2 separate regions of the Homo sapiens genome follow, and region 1 is linked to region 2. The links come from fine-mapping of genetic effects on gene expression. Tissue or cell type: whole blood. Region 2 holds a variant in brackets; the other region holds the start of a gene. All regions are shown on one strand. Distances are between the middles of the regions.

The links. PIP is the estimated chance that this variant, and not a neighbour inherited with it, causes the effect.
Region 1: it holds the start of MELTF, and the variant in region 2 is fine-mapped to the expression of MELTF in whole blood (TOPMed, PIP above 0.99).

The regions. Positions count from the first base shown.
Region 1 is chr3:197,028,462-197,031,131 of GRCh38, forward strand. MELTF (melanotransferrin) reads right to left here and starts at 1,356. Exons shown (of 16, transcript NM_005929.6): 1 at 1,193-1,356. The coding sequence starts at 1,241. RefSeq lists silencers at 619-798, 989-1,038, 1,089-1,578 and enhancers at 1,112-1,748, 1,749-2,385.
Region 2 is chr3:197,101,592-197,104,432 of GRCh38, forward strand. The region is part of intron 14 of DLG1 (discs large MAGUK scaffold protein 1); the gene reads right to left. Among named protein-coding and RNA genes, the nearest start is that of MELTF, 73 kb to the left of the region's middle. The variant T/A (reference allele first, on the strand shown) is at 1,493.

The DNA.
Region 1 (2,670 bases), 73 kb before region 2:
TGCCAAGGGAAGACGGCAGGCACAGAGGGGAGGCTGAGGACCCATCAGGGTAGGTTCAAGCCTCTCTGAGCCTGCTTCATCTTCTGAGAGAGCAGATAAAAACCCCACCTTCTGTGTTGAAAGTAAACCCCCTTGTAGAGAGCCTGAGACACCCACATCCTCAGTGGACTTCTGCTTATGCCTCAGGATCTGACCGGGTCAGAGTCCCCGAGAGCTCCCAGGCTAGGGGCCCAGAGGAAGGGGTGCTGGAGCCCCTTGGGGCCGATGACTTTCAGGCCTGAGCTCCTCTGCCATTCACCCTGCCCCAGCCAGCACTGCCAGAGGCCTGTGCAGGAGGGAGGGAAACGCATGACTCCGCCCGAAACCAGGTCACCCTCCCGTGGCAGCCCCACCAGCCCAAGGGCCGAGACTGAAGCTTCCGCCACAGCCCTCCCCTCCCCACTCCTGGCGGAGGCCTGGGAAGTCGAACTGCCCTCCCCTCCGCAGCGCTCCAAGCCCCCCACCACCCAGGCGGGAAACTGCAAAGTTCAGACGGGGCGGGGGTGGCGGTGGCTTCATCGTTTGCATTGATGAGTGCGTCGCCTGCGGCCACAGCGGTGCCACGAACTCCATCCCCTCGGCGGTCGCCGCCCGCGATCCCCGCGAGCCGCTCCCCGAGGTCCCGCCTCCCGTCCCACCATCCCGGGCCCTGACTCCCCGGGGCGCCGACGCGAGGGGACCCGGCCTCCGTCTCCACCTCCATCCCTGCATGTGCCAGAAACCCCCGGGCGGACTCCCGCGCCTGCCGGTCAGTCCCTCTGAATCTTCTCCCGCGGGGGCTCGGGAGAAAGAGCTGCTCCGAGCCCCCAAAGTCTTCCTGAGTTCCTGCGCCCGTCGGGAGGGGCCGCCCTCCGGGAGCTCCTCTCCACACCCCGAGGCCTCCCCACCACGCCTCAGCCCGCGCTTCTCCTTGGAGCGTCGGAAGCCTCGGGTGTTCGAGGCCGCCTCCTCCAAGAAGCCTTCCAGACTTCCCCGTCTGCGCTTCAGTGCTAGTTCCCTCCGCCGTCCTCACTCGACCCCGAGCCCCTGCCTCCCCCGTCTCACTGCCCCGGAGCCGCAGGCTCAGGCACATTTCCAGCCCCGGGACCTGCTCAGCCGGGCCGCGGCGCCCCGGGACCCCCGCCCGCCTTTGGCTCTCACAGCGGGGCCTCACCGGTGCGCAGAGCCAGGAGCAGCCACAGAGCCCCGCTCGGACCCCGCATGGCGCCGTCGGGGCTGGCTGGGGCCGGGCTGGGGCTGGGTCCGGGTCCGAGGAGGTCCGCAGCAGCCGGGCTTCCTCCCTGCTCCCCCTCGCGCTGGCCCGAGCTCCTTAAGTGCGGCCGCGAGTTCCCGGGCGGAATCCACGCCCCTGGGGCGCAGGTCACCTCCCGCCGACCCCGGACCCCGCCCCTGGGCGGCCCCGGCGCGCCCCCTGCTGGAGGCCTCCCGCTCGGGCCCGGGCGCCGCTGCTCGGGGCTCTCGCCTCAGCCTCCTACCCCGCGTTCCAGGGTATCCTCCCCTCCTCGCGCCCTAGAAAGACTCCAGATACCGTGTCTAACTGGAGAGAGAAAAGCTCAGACGTGGAAGGAAGGAGAGGTCAGAATCCCAGAGTCGGGGCTGGAGGGCAGCTGGAGGATGATCTCATTCACGCAGCAGCTCCCTCCCAGCACAGCTGCACAGAGGATCTGGGATACGGGGGAGCCCAGGCCGAGCGCCCTGGCGAGGGGGGAGCCGGGCAGGGGCATCTCGGCCACAGCTGCACAGAGGATCTGGGATACGGGGGAGCCCAGGCCGAGCGCCCTGGCGAGGGGGGAGCCGGGCAGGGGCATCTCGGCCACAGCTGCACAGAGGATCTGGGATACGGGGGAGCCCAGGCCGAGCGCCCTGGCGAGGGGGGAGCCGGGCAGGGGCATCTCGGCCACAGCTGCACAGAGGATCTGGGATACGGGGGAGCCCAGGCCGAGCGCCCTGGCGAGGGGGGAGCCGGGCAGGGGCATCTCGGCCTAGCCGACTGCCTCTCCTCGGGCCTAGAGACGGGAGGTGACTTGCCCGAGTCAGGCATCCAGTCAGTGGCAGAGCCAGCTGATTGGAAGGTGAGAAGAGGACCAGAGAGGAATTGGAGGAAGCGGAAAAGGAGAAACAGGCGGAGAAGGGGAGGAAGAGAGTGAAGAAGGTGAGGGAGGAAAGGGTGGGTTGACCGTATTTCTAGGACAGTGGTTCTCAGTGTGGTCCCTAGGCCAGCAACGTGAGCATCACCCTGGAACTTGCTGGAAATGCAAGTGCTCAGGCCCCACCTCCGACCCACTGGATCGACAGCTCTGGGGGCGGGGCCCACAATCTGTTTTTATTTCGGGGCACAGCAAATGTTGAGAACCACTGTCGCAGGCGGGCAAAAGCGGCACTCCCCATGTGGTTGGGGATGCGGGGAATGAACTGAAGACATTGTTAGTCACCTGCCTCCATTTAGGCCTCACCTTTATGTCATCAGCCCCTCTGAGACTCAGAAATGATGTCTCTCTCTGACATGGGTAAGTACAACAGTGAGAGAGAAGACATCCCTCTGAGTTTGTCTGTCCTTGAGCTTGCTCTGCGCCCTGGGGAAGGAAGGCCTCCCTCCTATGGGGCCATGAAGCTACTGCTTATCACACACTG
Region 2 (2,841 bases):
TGTTAGCCAGAATGGTCTCTATCTCCTGACCTCGTGATCTGCCCGCCTAGGCCTCCCAAAATGCTGGGATTACAGGCGTGAGCCACCGCGCCTGGCCAAGAGATTCTTAAACTATAGGAAGTATGTGATAAAACTTTATAACTTTGGGATATGGAGTCCAAAACGAGTATAGTATTATATTTCCAGTTCCCATGTTCGATTATTTTTATTTTTATTTTGAGACGGGGTCTCACTCTGTCGCCCAGGCTCAAGTGCAGTGGTGAGATCATAGCAATCCTGCCTTGGCTGGGACTACGGGTGCGCACTACCACGCATGGCTAATTAAAAAACTTTAAAAAAAGTTTTAGCAGAGACAAGATCTTGCTATGTTGCCCAGGCTGGTCTCGAACTCCTGGGCTCAAGTAATCCTCCCACCTAGGCCTTCCAAAGTGCTGGGATTAGAGGCCTGAGCCACCACGTCCAGCTAATTTCTGATAATGATTCTCCAAAAAGATTAACAGTAAAGGCCCCCCAAAGTGAATTATTCCTTGCCTTTGGAATTAATAAAACTGAAAGGAGTTAGAAGATAATGTTCCTTCATATGTCTTGTAGAGATTATTTTTTCTCATAATCAGAATCCAAGTCAAGAAAGTTCAAAGTACACAAGCTGAAAAACCCATAAAAGTACTTTTTTGGAAGACTAATAAGGCAAACCATAGATCCTGAAAGATAAAAAACTTAATTCTACCAAAAGCTTACCTTTGTCTCTATCTGTCTGTCTTGTATGTATATATATAAGATTATCAACAAGGCAGAGAATCCCAAGCCTTTAGGAAAGATACTAACTGCAAGATGCTGATTATCAGAGTGTCGGATGACTCCTTTTGTACTTCTTAAAATCCGATTTGTGTTAATGTTTTTGTGTTGTGTGTGCGTGTAGCTAACCTGTTACTAAGCTTTGATGCTTTTCCCCACCTCTTATTATCTTTGTATGAATGTGAGGCTACTTTTAAATTACTTATTACTGGGGCTGGGGGCTGTGGCTCACGCCTGTAATCCCAGCACTTTGGGAGGCCGAGGCAGGCAGATCACCTGAGGTCAGGAGACCAGTCTGGCCAACATGGTGAAACCCCGTCGCTATTAAAAATACAAAAATAAGCCGGGCGTGGTGGCAGGTGCCTGTAATCCCACCTACTTGGGAGGCTTGAACCTGGGAGGCGGAGGTTACAGTGAGCCGAGATTGTGCCACTGCACTCCAGCCTGGGCAAGAGAGTGAAACTCCATCTTAAAACAAACAAAAAAAATTACTTATTACTTTGCTAGATTTTGCTAGAGTAGCTATTCCAGAAAGTCGAGGGGTGCAGGAAAGATAGAGGCACAGGACATTTTTACAGGTTTTAAAACCCAAATACTGTCACATTATCTGATCCTACAGAGGCAGGCTGCTTTATCCAAATACGGGTCCTCTGCTTTTCTAAACCAAACCACATTATGAGTGAAATTTTATACCATA[T/A]CCTAAATTTGTGCCATCACAAACATTCTCAACATTCCATATTTTAACTCTTCCCCTCTTTCCGTGTGGCTTCTGCAAGACCTCAGCTGCTTAAGGAGTCTTTACCTCTACTTGGTTGTCCAGGTATCATACCTGCCTTCTTAGTTTTAGTTAATATTAAGTGAAGTTGTGTGGGTAGGAGCATGCGTGTATGTTTTGTTTTTCTTACTGCTTTTGTGTGTTCTGTGTGTTTTGAGGTTAGGGAGCAGATATTAAGTTACCCGTAACCATACCTAAAAAGTTTATATTCCTTATAAACATATAAATGAGAGGCTGTCTATAATACTAAGGAACCAGTGACTGTAACTCGGCTTCCATATAGTGTACCTACGGGGTGGAATATGTTGGCCAGAAGATAAAAGTACAACATAGGGTCCCATTGGCAGATTTGTTTCTCACAAAAATTAACGAATTGACATTCTGACTTCATACGTTAGTCTCTATTGTTTGGTTAATGTGAATTAATATTCAGAATTTACTCCCAATTAAACAAATTTTCCCCTGTTTAGTTACTAAGCCTAAAAGGCCAAGGTTTTACTAGATTGATAGAACCTCCCATACTTAAGAAAGACCAAGCAATGCTCAACATGCTGCTTTGATCAGCTAAAAAACATACTAGATTAAAAAAGAAATTCTGCTTCAAAAAAGAATAAATGTAATTAGTTGATAAATTACAGAATTACTCATTTAGCTCCTTTACTCACATCATCTTTTCCTTATTCATCATGTTGTTTATGAGCATCAACAAATATGCTATGTATTCTTTTGGGTATTTAAGCTTTCTAAATTCCACTGAGGTTTTATTGGAGATGTGGTTATGCTGATGTACACTAGAGTCTTACATATGTTTACTATGGCATGACCTCAAATTCTCCATCACCACCTTCTTCCCCCAGGAACTTAGTAAAGTCACATCCACCATACTTCACCATCTAGACACACAGTATACTCCAAACTTGGCATTCTTCTCTTTATTTTAAATAGCGGCAGTAACAGCTATTAGAAACATGTCTTAAATCTTGATATTAATAATTATAACCTAATTCAAAAGCTAGAAAAAATCTGGGTGACCTAATTTTTTTGGGCATTATTACTATATCTGCTTATGGTTTTTATTATTTTTTCAGATCAATAAAGTAGTAAAAGGGACATTAAAAGCTATGTCTTCAGTTACAGAACAGATTTAAAAAAGTAAACAGTTAAATTAACCCACATAATGGGGGTTTTGTGGGTTAAGCTTGTGGATGCCAGTTCCCACATCATTAAAAAATACTTTTGGCAGGGTGCAGTGGCTCACACCGGTAATCACA